Linked DNA regions of Homo sapiens: region 2 is linked to region 1. Evidence: fine-mapped expression QTL. A gene starts in region 1. The other region holds a variant in brackets. All regions are shown on one strand. Distances are from middle to middle. Region 1 holds the start of OXNAD1 (oxidoreductase NAD binding domain containing 1). Region 2 overlaps RFTN1 (raftlin, lipid raft linker 1).

What was found. PIP is the estimated chance that this variant, and not a neighbour inherited with it, causes the effect.
Region 2: its variant is fine-mapped to the expression of OXNAD1 in whole blood (TOPMed, PIP 0.99).

Annotation. Positions count from the first base shown.
Region 1 is chr3:16,261,635-16,269,974 of GRCh38, reverse strand. It overlaps OXNAD1 (oxidoreductase NAD binding domain containing 1), which reads right to left and starts at 4,763. Exons shown (of 9, transcript NM_138381.5): 1 at 4,470-4,763; 2 at 700-849. It overlaps DPH3 (diphthamide biosynthesis 3), which reads left to right and starts at 5,032. Exons shown (of 3, transcript NM_206831.3): 1 at 5,032-5,206; 2 at 5,746-5,820. The coding sequence starts at 5,099. RefSeq lists an enhancer at 4,891-5,200.
Region 2 is chr3:16,344,664-16,353,003 of GRCh38, reverse strand. The region is part of intron 7 of RFTN1 (raftlin, lipid raft linker 1); the gene reads left to right. It also overlaps a transcript of OXNAD1 not described here. Among named protein-coding and RNA genes, the nearest start is that of OXNAD1, 84 kb to the right of the region's middle. The variant T/G (reference allele first, on the strand shown) is at 3,658.

The DNA of each region.
Region 1 (8,340 bases):
GATATTTCTTTTTGGTTCCTTTTCCATCATTTTCCTATGTCAATTTTTAAACATTTCTTTGTCTAAAATGGCCACATTTAACATGTTACATTGCTCTATTTGTCCATCTTAGTTACCTTGAGAATAAATGAAAATGCATGTGAATACTTTTTTTTCTGAGCTTTTTGGGAGGCAGTATATAAATTAATTGTGATAAATTGCTGTTAGCAAAATATTCAAGCTAAGTGTTTACATTCCTACTCCATATTCATTAATTTGGTCCTTCATTCAACGAGTATCTATCAAGAGTCCACTATGTGGCAGGCACTGGCCTAAGCAATGGTGCTTTAGGCATGAAGAAAACAAAAACTCTCTTAGAGAGCTTGCATTCCAATAGATGAAGACAGAAAATAAATAAAAATAAATAAATCTGATGGTGATATAAGTCATATGCAGTTTATTTGGTTATACCCAAATCATATTAAAAAGCTCACTGCTTCATAACTAGTCTTTAGATAAACGATATATTTCTTCTTGTCATAGTATGTTGCAGCATCATTGCGGATAAGCATGCTACTTGCTATTTTTCTCTTTACTAAATGAAAAAAGCAGAAGGCCTCTTCAACCTCATTCAAGACCACTAAACGTAGTTTTTCTCCATTAAATGTTCTAAGTCAATAATGTTACCTTAATCCCTGAAAGAAAGAAGTTGAAACTTACCTTAGAAGTCCACGAGATTTTAGGAGTCATTAAGTATATGGTCAGCTGATTGACAGAATATTTTGGTCCTGCTATTACACTGAGACTTTTGGATGTACAGCAGTTGGAACATGGACAGCTTTTCCATGCATTAAAATTCTCACAAAGTTCCTGCAATGGCACAAACAACATATAACAATGTTTTGGGGAACTGATCAAAAGCACTATTACCTCTTAGCTGCCAAAGGAAAGGCTCATTAAAATCAGTAGGCATCACCTCACAACAAGCCCACTCTCAATTACCCCCTCTCCATCCATTCTTTCCTCCATGCTTCCATTTTTCTTTTTTGATTATTTATCTTACAGCTTATTTTGTTCATCTTCCTTGCCTGTCTTTAACACCTGCTACTTAGGATATCCACCCCAGGAAACAGCAGACCAAAGGCTAGAATGACACAGTTACATGTCATTTAAGGCCAAGTTCCCTGATAAAATTTAACCACTATATTGTTAAATATGGAAATACTGTTCTGTTCAATGTTTTAGACAACTATTGCTAAAATAAGTTGTCCTCACAATAGGATACATCATTTAATGATTATGCTGTTTGAATGGTCCCCTTCTCAACTGAACTGGAAAACAAATGTTAATTTTAAAAGTAGTTCTTCCCGGGCACAGTGGCTCATATCTGTAATCCCAGCACTTTGGGAGGATGAGGTGGGTAGATCGCCTGAGGTCAGGAGTTTGAGACCAGCCTGGTCAACATGGTGAAACCCCATCTCTACTAAAAATACAAAAAATTAGCTAGGTGTGGTGTCGGGCGCCTATAATCCCAGTTACTAAGGAGGCTGAGGCAAGAGAATCGCTTGAACCTGGGAGGCGGAGGTTGCAGTGGGCCAAGATCATGCCATTACACTCCAGCCTGGGCAACAAGAGCGAAACTCAGTCTCAAAAAAAAAAAAAAAAAAAAAAAAAAAAAAAAAGGAGTTCTCTTTAAAATCCTAAGATTTTATTTTGTGAAAGTAACCATGACCAAGAGTGCCACCTACTGGTAAATAAAGGACATTTTTATAAAATTCTGTTTAAAGTGCTTTCCAAAGCTTTATGCCAGTCCTTTAAATAAAATATAAAAAATTTAAAACCTACTAATTTTTTGAAATATGTCCGGCGGTTCCATACTGTAAGCATTTAATCAACCACAGCAGATCAATATATATCAAGTTATTTCTAAAACCATATAAAGTAGACCATCCCATCAATGTCTGTATCCTCACAGGCCTTCCCTTACCAAAAAATCTTAATTAACTTTATTTCTGAAATGCAGAAAAGTATAATAAGTGCTAAATAAAACTGACACCCATTAAATATGTAGTAAAACAAACTTCTGAAAGCAACAGATTAAATTTAACATTTAAGATTAATTATATGGTTTCAGTTCAACAGGTATACTCAGTTCATTCAACAACTACAGGGGTGCCAGGCACTATTTTAGGCCTTGGAGATATAATAAAGAACCAGACGCAAGGCCCTTGCCATCATGAAGCTTTTATTACAGTTCCAGAGACAGATAGTAGTAAACAAATAACAAGATAATTATAGATTATGATGAGTATGATAAAGGGAGTAAGAGTGATGGGGTAGGTGGGGGAAATATCAAGAAAGACATCTCTCCAGTGATGACACCTTGGCTGAGATCTGAATGATGAGGAAAAGGCGGCCAAGCAAATGTTAAAGGCAGACAACTCTGGCAGAAGGACTAGCAAGAGCAAAGGTCCAACACAGAAATAAGCCCGGCATGTTAAAGGAACCAAGGCCAGTGTGACTGGAGAGCAGTAAGCTGGTAAGAGTGAAATGAGATGAAGTCCAGCAGTCTATAGTAAGGGTAAGAATTTTATCCTAAGGGTAATGGGAAGCAACTGAAAAGTCTGAATCAATCAGGAGAAGGACAAGACCTAATTTATATTTTTAAAGGACTGCTCAAGTTGCTGTGGGAAGGATAACAGAGGGAGAGGGGCAGGAGTGGAAGCAGGAAACCCAGTTAAAAGACTCTGGTCTAAGATTATAATAAGGTAACAGCTACAGAGATGGCAGAAGTAGATGAACATGACATATATTTTGGAATTAGAGCCCCAAAACTTGCTGATACATTAGGCAGGGTGTGAGAGGACACTGACAGAGAAAAGCCAAGAATGCCTCAATAAGCATAAATGCACTGAAATTAAGTAAGTTCAAAGAACAATCATGACATCTGTCAATTTAGAATCTTAGGTGTCACTGAGGAAGAAAAAGGGCTCCTCTTGCTCCAACAGGCAAAGACACCTTAGTGGTAAACAAGTAGTATACACAGAGTATTTGACCGGAAATCAGCGGAACTGGGCTCAGGTGTGACTCCTTCCTGCTTTCTAATCTTCAGCAAGTCTCCTCTTGCCATTTTAACATTACCCACGCCACCTCACTGGATTACTGAGAGGAATAAATAAAATGTCTACCAAAGTACCTGGCAAGCAACAGTGTTACTAAAATCAATCCTAATACATTGACCCCTTCTCTTCCTTGTCAAACAACCTAGAGAGGTGGAGGTTTGGTATTGCCAATAAACAACTCCTTCTGGCCTGATATACAACAGCACTCATCAAATATAGTTTGCATTATACAATTATGACCTACTTCTTTTTTTTTTTTTTTTTTTTTTTTGAGACAGCGTCTAGCTCTGTCGCCCAGGCTGGAGTGCAGTGGCGTGATCTCAGCTCACTGCAATCTCTGCCTTCCAGGTTCAAGAGATTCTCCTGCCTCAGCCTCCTGAGTGGCTGGGATTACAGGCACACCACCACACCTGGCTAATTTGTGTATTTTTTAGTAAAGACGGGGCTTCATCATGTTGGTCAGGCTGGTCTCGTATTCCTGACCTCGTGATCCGCCCTTTTAGGAATAAATGTAAAGTTTAGTAGTCATTGTAATGTTTTCTTCAAAAGTGCACAGGGATATATTATGTATATGTGTTACGTAAATGTAAACTAAATGTTATATATCATTGCTGAACCAAGTAAAGCTCATAATTTCCGTGCAAAAGTGGAACATTACATCTAAAAAGGATCTTATATCATCTCTACTCCAATCCTTTCTTAGAAGAGGAAATAAGGCCCAAAGAATGTAAATATCCAGTTGCCAGAGGTAATCAACAACTCAAGATTCCGATCCCAGATCTTCTCTCGAAAGTGCTTTTTCACTACAATGCATTTCTTCTCTACTAAGATATTAAAATGCCTAGTAATTAAGTAAGACCCAATGTAATCGGTTTTACCAAAACAGGCACTAGCACTGCTTTCAAGACAAAAATGCCTTTTATCTGCATTTCGCTTCAAGGCATACATAGGCCTCACACTGATAAACCTGCCTACTGACACCATTTCTTTCACAACGAAAAAACTGGTACTCACATAAGTAATTTGTTCCTGGGCTTTGGAGACAGACAAGCTCTTCATTATTTCCCAGGTGTATGATTTTAGTCAAGATGCCCAACTCTCTGTACCTCAGTTTAAAGATTAATAAAATGGAATAACATGTAAACTCCTAGAGTTGACAATTCCACTTAGTGCAATAGCTGGCACATAACTTCCCAATAATAAAAGGTGATGTTATTACTATTACTAAAAATCATCGTCGTTAATAATGTTATAAGCCTGGCAAACAGAAGACTAGAACTCAATCCCTGCCTTCCAGGGCTTGGTCCTTTCAGCAACACAATTTAGGGTATTTTAAGGCGTCTGGGGTGAGGAAGAAGCGGAATGTACCTGCAGCCAGGAATTAACAAGCTGACCGTCGCCCTGGGCTCAAGGTCACTCGGTGAAGCGAAATTCTACGGGAACTGTTCGTCCGTCACCAGGAAGGGAGGTCGAGGAGGCTAAGCTGCTCTCGCCTCCCCACCCCGCCTTTCCCGAGGGCCGGGAGGCTGCTACCTAGCACCTGCTGCAGCCTTCAGCGGGCTATTTAAGGCGTTAAAGCAGACGATAAGAAGCAGGGAAACTTTCCCCGCTGGCACCTAGCTTGCAGACCCGGCCACGTTTAGTTGCAGGCGCCTGGAATACTCCGCGGTCCCAGACGTGACGTAGCAGCGCGGGCGAGCCCCACATTCTATTGGTCGCTGCCGCCCAATAGGAGGAGCGGTGCGCGACCCCGCTGAGCAAGCTTTCAGTCTTCCCAGTGTCTCCGCCCCTAGTTCAGCCATCTCCATGGTGACCGCTACCGGTTATCCATTTGGCCGCGCAGGGCGGAGTTGCGTCATTGCCTATGCGCCGGAAGGGCTAGTCCTTGCCCGGCGCGACCTGATGATGCCGAGCCCAGGCCGGTTCCGGCGAAGTTAAACCCTCGGAGCTGGCCTCGGACTGCTGGGGCGTTACCCCTTCGGCCACCCCCGCTGACCATGGCAGTGTTTCATGACGAGGTGGAAATCGAGGACTTCCAATATGACGAGGACTCGGAGACGTATTTCTATCCCTGCCCATGTGGAGATAACTTCTCCATCACCAAGGTAACTTCAGGGTCCCGCCCGGCGGTTCACCCAAGCAAGCGCAGTTTGGTTCCGCCCGTTCCTTCCATCATTGGGTAGCCTTTGCTGCGCTGTGTCACCCACGCCCTCTTTCCCGTTGCTGAATCTTCCTCCTCCCGCGTCCCCCCACCCCAACTAATGCCCTGAGCTCTCTCGGTAGGCACGCAGTTCTGGCCTTAGATTAGGTCAGGGAGAGGGTGGCGGAGAGCCTCTGTCTCTCTGCCCGATCCCTGCCTTAGGGTCCCAACCTGGGATATTTCTGTCGAGGAGGGGACTCGTTTTTTGTTTCCCAGGGCTTTTGGGGCGACCGAAGCTCGCCTGACCTTCCTAGGTGTTTCCCCTAAGTGACGCTTCTAGGGGAAAATGATGTCGGCATTTCTCGCTGAAGGCCCTGGGGTTCTCACCCACCTTGGGGGGAAGGCAAGCCACCAAGAGACTTGCATCTAGGGGTGGGATAGGTTTGGGGGAGGAGATGGCGAAGAGAAGCTATCCTGACCACATGGTATTTGATTTCGTTGTAGGAAGATTTGGAGAATGGGGAAGACGTGGCAACGTGTCCTAGCTGCTCTCTCATTATAAAAGTGATTTATGACAAAGTAAGGGATATAATTTTAAAACGGGGGAAGGGTATTGTAAGTCAGTGGCAAGGACTTAGATCAGCTTGTCAGTGATGAGTGCAGGAGAATGTTTCATTGTGCTAGGTAAAGTGCGGTATTTTTTTAGGCAGGTTTTAAACACCATTGATAAACAGCCGAATAGTAAATTAAAACGTTTAAAGTTCAGATTACGTAATTTATTTTAGCTTTAGAGATAAATCTAGCTTTAGTGAAAATTATTATTTATTAAATAGAAAGTATATAGATTATTTTAGTGGACAATTTTTTATATTTCTCTTCTATTTAATATGTAATTAAAATTGTTTAGAGCTGCTAGACTTACTTTGAAGGGAACAATTGTATGGTATTTCGTGCTGGCTTATACACAGAATTCTGCATTATCTTGTTTGAGATATAATTCCTAGGTGCAGCTTTACAATTTCATTTTAGTCTTTAGTTGCCCTATTATCTTTCACCCAAGGATGTTGACAATAGAAAAAAAAAATGTTATTACTGCCCACTCCTACCCAAAGTTTTGTTCAGTACTTGGAATGGAATCTTAGGTAAGGACCTTAACACTCTCAAGGATGAAGTCCAAAATGAATATAGGGAAAGTGGGGATGAGGCACAGAGCCTCATGAGAGAAGCGGGCTATAATTTAGACTATAATTTAGAAATATAATGATTCATTCTTGTATTAAAATGTGCTCTGCAACAGAAAGCAAACGGTAAGGAAGATCAGGAGTGCTGGTCTGGGAGGAAGTTGCAGTTTTCCATAGGGTGATCATGGCAGGCCTTACTGAGAAAGGCCTTAATAGGTAAAGATTTGAAGGAGGTGAGGGAGTGAGCCATGTACATATGAGGGTATGAGGTAAGAGAGTCGAGCAAAGGATCGTTCAGTGAAGGGGACCTAAGACAGGAACATGCCTGATTTTATCAAGGAACAAAAAGGAGGCCAGTGTGACCAGAGCAGAGCAGGATGAGAGTAGCGTAAGAAGTTGTGGATCACTTTAAGGACTTAGGCTCTTGTTGTGAGTGATATAGGGAACCATTGGGGGATTTTTGAACATAGGAGTGCTATGATCCAACTTAAGTTTTTTAAAAAATGATTCTGGCTGCTGTGTTCAGAGTAGCCTATAGAGAGCAAGCATAGAAACAGGAAAACCAGTGTAATAGGAGGCTATTACACTAATTAAAGAAGGAGATGGGTGGCTTGGACCTGGTTACAGCAATGGAAATAATGAGAAGTACTTAGATTCTGGATACGCTTTGAATAACTGATTGGATATAGGGTGTGAAGGAGTGAGACAAGGATGATTTCAATATTTGTGACCTTAATAACTGGGAGGATGGAGTTACTGTCAATTGAGGGAATGTAACTATAGGTATAGGGGTTGAAATTGTACATACTAAGTGAGAGGTCTGTCATCCAAGTTGAGCTGTTGAGAAGGCAATTGGATATGCATGTCTGGCGTTCATGAGAGAGATTGGCTAGCAATGTCAATTTGGGAGTTATCAGTAACAGATAGCATTTAGAGCCATGAGATTGGATGAGACCACCAGGTCTGTGAATGTAGAGATGGATAAAATACAGGACTGAGCCTTAAGGCACTACAGTATTAAAAAGTCAGGGAGGGAAGCGAGGAATCACCAAAGCTGATGGTAAAGGAGAAACCACTGAGAAAGGAGGAAAATCAGCAGTGTCAAATCCTGGAAACCAGATGAGAAAGGATTGAGGAAGTGGTGATCCTTGTCACGTGACACTGATAGGAAGCAATCAAGAATTAACCATTAGCTTTAGCAACACTGAGTTCATCTGTGACGGAGATGAGAGCAGTTTCCATGGAGTAACAGGAACAGCGCATGAGTGAAGAAACCAATGGGCAGAATACTGGTTGGAGAGAATGAGAGAACAGAAGGCAGTGAGTATAGGCATTTCTTTTAAGGAGTTTGCTGCAAAGGAGAGCACAGACATGGGACAGTAACCAGTGGTGATAGAGGATCAAGAGAGGGTTTAAGGTGGTAGAAATTCAGCCTTCATTAGTGAATATAGACATGGAAAGTTAGATTTAACCAGGTTTAAGGTTTTCCCAAGTGAATAGTAAGGAGTGAGAGAAGAGTGGTTATAACTGACCATGGAGTTTGAACTAGGTAAAGAGAACATGAAGGGAGTGAGGGGCAGTGAAAGGGTGGTAGGATGAATATGGTGGAGGTCCAGAGGGGTTGGAATATGGCATCCAGGGTGGATAAATGACAGCAACAGAGAAGAATAGCAAGGCGGTAGTCTCAAGACATAAGATTCTAAACTGATGGGTTTTAGACAGGAAAGGAGAATGGAGGCAAAAAGGAGGAACTAGCCCCACTTCCAATCCCTCTGGTACTAGGACTCTGAGAACACAGAGCCTCCACTAGATGGGCTTGTAGGGGAAACTGTCCTTAAGAATATGACTTCATCTCAACCTCAGCCCTGTTGACATTTTAGGCCTGATAATTCTTTGTTGTTCAGAGATACCCCGTGCA
Region 2 (8,340 bases), 83 kb before region 1:
CCAATTCCACCCTGTCTCGCTGGCTTCCCTCTCTCTTCACGTGCATGGACACACGAAAATGTAGTGTGCGGACAGTGCAGCACGTTGGCAAGACAGCGGAGATTCCAGAGTCTGGCCTGAGTGTGCATCCTGCCTCTCTGATTCCAAGCTGAGTGACAGACTATGTGAAAAGTAAACCACACCTGCTTTTTCTATTTTCAGTTGTATAAATGGGGATACTGGTAACAACCTCTCAAAATTGATGAGAATTAAAAGAGAAAATATATTAAAAAGTTGTGAATGTAGGACTGGGCACATAGTAAGCCCTCACTACATACTGCTTTCTGTGTCAGTCACCTGGTATCATCAGTGAGACAGATCCTCCCCCCATTGCCTTCGTTTTATGCTAAAAGCACAGAGGAGGTTGGGCTAGGGAACCTGTAGAGTCAAATACAAATAATTGCATTTTGCTCGGTTGGAAACCTACAGCCTAAAATTAAAGGCATTTGTAAGATAAATGTCTATCCATAGGGCATTTATAACAGGTATTTTGTTTACTTTCTTTGAGTTTACAGTCTAGTATGTGAGCAGAAAGGGTAATTCTTGGAAAGGAAAGGAAAAAACTACATAGATGAATAGGTAAAGAGCAAGATACAGAGACCCTCTTCTTCCCTCTGAATCTGTTTATCTTTGAGCCTGACAGCCCATCAGAGCTTATAGACACCACCAGGTGCTACCTGAGCCATAGAGCCTTTTCCATGTTTATCCCTCTCCCTGGAATATGTTCTAGCATATCAGTGCTTATCGTGAAATTTGGTGCCAGAATGGAACATAAGAGAGTAGAAAAAGCACTTACAGCTGATGCAATTGGTATGGTGGCTGGTGGGTTAATTGAAAAAGCCAATTAAAGAGACCCAAAGCAAATCAGATTCCTATCTTACACATTTTATTTGAATGTAAAGTATGTAAATACATGTCCATTTGCCAGTCTTTTTGAGTTGAGTGTCTGCTGAAGTAGAGTTCTGCCTCATCTTTCTCATATAAACCACACCCAAAGTGTGCTGGCTACAATGCCCAGTGTCAGTTTCTTTAAAATATCAATGGAATCTGACTGCAGAATCCATGTTTTCATGATTTTTTTTTCTAGTCTTTCTAGTCCCCTCACCCAACACACCCCTAATTCAGCCAGTTGTTACTTTTTAGTGATTGTTCTTTGCTGAGTCTATTCAAGGAATTCAACTTAGTTTTTTGAGAAACAACTTGTTTTTGCACTTATAGTTTATATGCTTTTAAATCATTTAAATTAAGACATGTAATTAGGATAATGGGTCTAACTTATATACAGCTTACCCCTGAAGTGCTCAGTTGGTGAGGTCAGAAGGGCATGAGCATCCTAGAAAGCAGCTGCTACCTGCGAGGACTTGACTTCTGTCAGGGTGGACTTGTATTTCTGCAAGTACAGCCTCAGGTAGAATGGCTTAGGGTATCATTACAGCCTCTGCAACCCCGCAGACTTTGTCATGAGGCTCTGGAGTCAGCTCTTCTCCACTCTCTGCCTGCGTATTCAATCTTTTGTTGAGTTAACCCCCATTTTATTTCATACTATTCGCTTCTGCCCATTTCCCCAGCCTGTCAAGACATTTCTGATCATGGATATATCATCCTTCATTCTGGGGATCTTCCAGCCTTGGCTTCCCTGAAGGCTTCATATGTATGGAGGCTCCTGACTGGTCTCAATGGCAAACAGACTGGATCAAGGACACAGTCCTTGGCGCGCTGCAGGAATCTCTCCACCAGTGCCTGACACTAACCCAAACCATTCTGCAGTGGATTCAGGTGGCCCTGTTGTTCCATCTTCCATTCCTCTATTGTATTTACATGAAAGGCTCGATGACACACTTTTCTGTAACTGAAACCTACTCTGGCCTGTAACCCTGTCTCATAATCCTGTGAATCCTGTGTAATAACACATTAGGTCTCACTTGTTCTTCATGAAGTTCTGCAGGTTTCTGGGGCTCAAGCTTTTGCTTTCAAAGGCTCCCAACCATCTCTTTAAGAATCCACTCTAGGATTTGCCAGGGAGTAACATCAATTTCTATGGTTTCTAGAATTCACAAGGGAGCCAATATTTGTTCTTTTTAAACCATCTGGCTTTTTTCTTCTATTGCCACAGTTTCTCCAAGATAATTACTTTGGTTCTGAGATCATAGTCTTTAGTGCCAAAGACAGCAGTTCTCTGCCTTTTTCCTGTGATAGGGATGATTTTCCTGTGAATAATCACTCCCATGAAAGGCCCAGGAATCAACACCCAAACCCCTCCCAGGCTGCATCTCCATCCTTTCCCACTGCAAAGCAAATCATAGCACAGGTGAGTAACGAGGAAGTCAGAATAGCCTCAGATCTACTTTAGCAGCGCCTTCAGTACTTTGACTTTTATCAAATTCTTGTGTGCCACTCACCTTGACAGTTACACACCTGTTTACAGAATAGTATGTATGGATGAGTGCCTTTTCCTTTAAAAAAAAAAAAAAAGTGATTCATCTCAGCTTGAGCTCATTTAAAATTTTCAAGTTTGCTTCAGAGGGCAAACTGCTAACATCTGTTAACAATTTGAAATGCCCACGCCCATCCATGACTCAGCAATTTCATACTTCATGTCCATCTCTTCTAAAGAAACAAATGCATGTGTTCACAAGAAGGCATAGACAAGGATATTATCTCAGCATTACTTGTAATATCAAAAAAGGTAATAATGTTCATGTCCATCAGTAGGGGAATGGTTAAACAAAGGATAATATATTCTTATTATAGATGAGGTCATTCTGTATAAGCTGACATGGAAGGAATTACAGGAAATGTTAAACGAGAAAATTAAGTTGCAGAATTGTCCTGTGATGGTTAATTTTATGTCAGCTTTGTTGGGCTATAGTACTCACTTACTTGATCAAACACCAATCTAGATGTTGCTATGAAAGTATTTTTAGATGTGATTAACATTCCACTCAGTAGAAGAGTAAAGCACATTACCCTTCCTAATGTGAGTGGACTTCAATCAGTTGAAGGCCTTAAGAAAAAAGATTGAGATCCCGGAAGAGGAAGGAATTCAGCCTGCAGACTCAAAACTGCAACATCGACTCCTGCTGGAATATCCAGCCTGCTGGGCTACCCTGCAAACTTTGGATTTTACATCCTCCACAGTCATGTAAGCCAGTTCCTCAAAATGAATCTTTCTAGATACAAGATAGCCTACTGATTCTCTTTCTCAGGAGAATCCTGATGAATCAGATACAAATGCTGTGATGCCATTAATGGGGAGAAAACTTCACAGTCTCTTAGACTTTAGCCAAATTTGTCTCCTTGTAGAAAAGCAAGTAAAATAGGAGTTGAATAATCCCATTTTTATTGTCTTGAACATACCCTTTTCTTGTGCAACTTCTTGCTTTGAGCATGATTTTAAATGGCGTATGTGTATACGTGTGCACACATGCACATACGTAGTTCACATACCTCATCTCATTCTAGGCTGAGGTGCATGTGTGTATACCTCACGCCACCTGCACACCTCAGCTCATTCCAGGCTCAACATTCCTCCTCTTTTGGGTTTGCCTTACTTTTGTCACCATCCCTGGAGGCTCAGGTACCCCCTTCTGTCCTTATAAATTCACACTCATCCATCTC[T/G]ACAGCCACAGTGGTTTTCCTTAGTTGCCTCCAACTTTTATCTTAGGGTGACAAGTCCACCTGGAGCCAGCATGCCTGTATTTCTTGCCATGGGGCCATATTGAACTTTCCTCTGAGCCTCTGAAATTCTTTTTCTTCTTGTCTCTGGAGATGGCCGCTAGTACTCTTCTGCTGTTAGGAACGTCACAGAGAAAAGCTTAGTTTATACAGTTTGTGTTGCCCAGGTAAGTCATTTCCCTTCCCATAATGATGGGGAAGAGATTACATTTAGAAATAGTGACCCCAAAAGGCCATGATCTGATTATTGAGTCCTGACTTCTGATCTGAAACTTTGACCCTGTCCTTGGATAGTGGAGCCTGGGATGGCTGTCTGTCCCTCTTTTACCTCTTTTAGCCAGAATTTTCCCTCTGCCTCCTCCTTGGCAGCAGCCACTTGCTCGGGTGTTCTGAAATGTGTGTGGATTGTGGCAGTGGCAGGACACAGAGATGATGGGCTATTGGACCAAAACCAGTCCTCCTGCTTCCCAGTGGGGCAGGTGGGCTGGACTTAATCCATGAAAGAGTACATAAAAAATGAGAAAGAACCACTTGAGATGGTGATTAGGGGTTCCATAACAGAACCCTCAGGGAACTGGGAAACTCCATAGGCTCAAAGAGAGTGACTACTTTTTGATGCCCAGGAACAAGGATGCAAAGGGGCATTTGCTGAGGCCCCACACATCAAGGAGCCTCGGGAAGAAGACATCCTACAAAGGAAATGGGAAGGCATTCAAGGCTAATTGTGCCCTGCTGACCAGAAGTGCCCTGGGAGAGAGCAGAGACTGAACAAGGCCTCCTGGACACAGTGGGCTCCAGCTGGGTATTGGCAAGTCAAGCCAGGACTTGGATGGGCTAAGGGAATTGAGTGTGGGGGCTTCCTGCTGTGGGAAGTGACAGGAGCAGAGGCCAGCTGGAAGAGAAGGCACATCTATTAATTTTTTTTTATAATTAGAACACATATTGGATAATGTGGATGATCTCCTAGATGCCTTCAATAATAGATAATGTGGGTGATCTCCTAGACGCCTCTGATTATGGATAATGTCAGTGATCTAGATGCCTCGGCTTCCTTTTTACCATCATGCTTTCACCTCAAACAGGCAGCACTTGTGCCTCTTAGCAAAGCCCTGCTCCTGAGCTCCAGGAGCCTGCCCTGCTTTAAGCAACAAGAGCCACAAGTGCTCCGAGGTGGTCCTCGTCGATGACAGAGGAGTGTGGGTGTATGAAAGCCCTGCTCCCTGGCCTCAGATGGGGACAACTCTGAGCATAACTCACCCCTCAGAGCTCCCCACAGGATCAGACTGAGCCGCTGGTCACGGGATGTTCTTAAAATTGTGTCCTTCCTGGGCTGCTTCTACTCTGTTGTACGACTTCTCCCGCTCCCTCACTGGCAGCACATCCTTAATAAGTTACTTGCACGTGAATACTTGTTTTAGGGTCTCCTTATAGGGAACCTGACCTAAGAGCATGTGTAAAAAAGTCCCATTGAGGAATATTACATTGCAAATCGAGATAAAAGTTATTGGAGGCTTTATAATAATTTTAAACAAAATGCTTACAGTGCAAATGTGTATATAGTAAAGACTGAATCCTCCTCTCTCCTCTGACCCTCAATTCCCTAGTTCCCCTTTCACAGAGAAAGCTCCTTCCAGAGAGGAGGTGGTGTACACACAGAGGTGAGTGTGCACACAGAGGTGGGTATGCATCTGTGTAACAGAGAGGCAGAGGGAGATTTTATACACATAGAGGTGAAGGCAGAGTAGAGAGTTGAAAATGCTTTGAAGATTGGAGTAGTGAGGCCACAAGACAAGAAATGCCAGCAGCCACTAGTGCTGGAAAAAAACAATGAGCGGATTCTCCCCCTAGCCTCCAAAAGGAGCATGGGCCTGTTATAACCTTGACTTTTGACCCAGTGATACTGATTTTGAACTTCTGGCTTCCAGAACTGTGAGAAATTTCTATTGTTGTAATCCACCAATTTTGTGGTCATTTGTTATAGCCCCCCCTAGAAAATGGATATAACATGCATGGACGTCTCTCCAGGGTTGCCCTGTAGGGTGTCCTTGACAGTATGTTTGCATGTGAAAAGTCTGGGGAAGACCGTGTGGGTGAGGCAAGGGCCTGGATTTTTGCAATGGGTTGAAGGGAGCCATAGTGGGATTTTCATCAGAGAGCTGTACACTGGGACAATTGGCCCTGGAGAAAGGGCCAGAATGGGGGAAAGGCCAACAGAAGCCCAGGGAAATAGAATAAGGGTGGTGGTCATGGGTATCAGTTGGGTTGCTTTCCACCGTTCATAGCAGGAAATCCAACTAAAAGTGGCTTAAGCCGTAGGGGTGTTCATCTCATCTCATTGAGCAGGAAGTCTAGAGCAAGGTGGGGAGGTTGCAGAGTCAGCTTTGTCAACAGCTTAAAGATGCCACCAGGGATCCAGATGTTGCCATCTTTCTGTACTCATCCTCAGCCTGTCTGCAGGGCTCTCCTTATGATCCTCCTCACAAGGTGACTGTGGCAATTCTAGGTGTCTCATGCAAATGTGATGACAACCGTGAAGAACGGGGCAGTTTTTTCCTGCCACACGTCCCTTTTTATTAGCAAGTAAAAGCTTTCCCAGAAACCCACAACAGAGATTTCCTCAGGTCTCATTGGCCAGGACTGAGTCACAGACCCATGCCACTTGTCAAGAGTCATGGTTGTCCAGGCCTGGGGGGTGTCAGTGAGGAAGAAGCCCTGGGCCATCGAGGGGCTGTTGGCTTTGGCAGCCAACAGAATGTGCCACTGAGGGGGACTAGCAAGGCAGGATGCTCCTAGAGGTATTTTCAAGAAGACTGGACTTGTTGACGGTTTGGATAATGAGATGACAAAAGGAAGTATTTGACCTTTAATCTTTATCTGCACTTTTTTCTTCCATAAACTCAATTGTCCTATTTTCTCAGACAGCCATATTTCACTTCATATACAAAATTTAGTGATACAAGTAAGTTATATCTTTTTAAAAATTTATCCAACAAATAAATATTGAGTTCCTACTGTGTGTCAGCCACTGTGAGAGCATGATGAATGGATGAAATTCAGGCAGGAAGGATTGATTCCATTTAGTCAAGGGAAGGTGTGTAGTCATTAAAAATGAATGTGCACCCCCTGGCCTTTCCACATTCATCAATAATTCCTCTTCATTGTCAAGCTTCCTGAGGGGTGCTGGAAGACCCTAAATCATAGGAACCTTTTCAATCTGACGAGGGGAGAGGCAAGTATGCCGTTCTGGTGAAGATCATGGGGCAAAGTGAATTTTGATTCTTGCTGCAGAGGAAGAGAGGATGAAACAAATGATCACGTTTTCAAAATCCTGTGACAAATGCGGTTTAAAATATTCAGTGTATGCCACAGAACAACAAGAAAGAAGTGTATTAGGGTTCTCCAGTAAAACAGAACCAGTAGGAGATTATACACATACACATGCACATGTGCGCGTGCGCGCACGCGCGCGCGCACACACACACACACACACACACACACACAGAGATTTATTATAAGGTTTTGGCTCATGTGATTATGGAGGCTGAGGAGTCCCACAGTCTGCTATCTGCAAGCTGGAGACCCAGGAAAGCCAGTGGTATGGTTCAGAGGCCTGAGAGCTAGCAGCTGATGGTGTGGACTCCAGTCCAGGTCCCAAGCCCTGAGAACCAGGAGCAACAAGGGCAGAAGATGGACGTTCCTGTTCAAGCAGTCAGGCGGTGTTAATTCAGCCTTCCTCCACCCTTTGTTCTGTTCAGGTCCTCAATGACTGGATGGTGTCCACCCACACTGGGGAGGGCCATCTGGTCTACTCAGTTGACCCATTCAAATGCTAATCTTTTCCAGAAACACCCTCACAACATGCCCAAAAATAATGTTTATGCATCCTGTGGCAAGTTAAGGGCTCAATGTGATAACAGGGGCTATATCTTTAGGTTTTCCCAATGTGTTTGAGATAAAAAAGTGGGAGATAATTCTATAACAGCTTTAAACACACACACACACACACACACACACACACACACACAACCACCTACTTATTATCTTACAGTTTCTGTGGGCCAGAAATCCAGGTGGGCTGAACTGGGTCGTCTGCTGCTTAGGGTCTCAAAACACTGAAATGGGATGTCAGCAGAGCTGTGTGCCTTATTAGAGGTTTTGGTGGGGAAGAATCCACTTCCAAGCTCACTTAGGTTGTTGGCCTTGTGGTTGCAGGTCTGAGGTCCTTGTTTTCTTGCAGGCAGTTATCCAGGAGCTGGTCCTTGCTCCTGGGGGCTGCCCCCATTTCTTATGCTTTCCATGTGGCCCCCTAAAAGAGCTTAAAATGCATAGTTTGAGAGCCACAGATGAAGAGAGGGCAAATGGTTCTCCAGAGAGAACTGAAGTATATTAAATCAGTGAGCATAAAAGGTTGGGGGGTGTTCTTGTAGTTATGTGTTCACTCACTACCACTCCTTGAAATATGTTCTTTGAAATTCACCTGGCCAAGGCTTTTAATACAACTAAATAAAAAGGAAGGGCCTATGGGTGGTGTATAACTGATTGAGAGGCCGCACTTGGCAACGATGTGCTTTCATTGGGAGGAGGTCTGTCTTCATGAGCTTTCTGATGCCATCCTGTGCCTTGGCC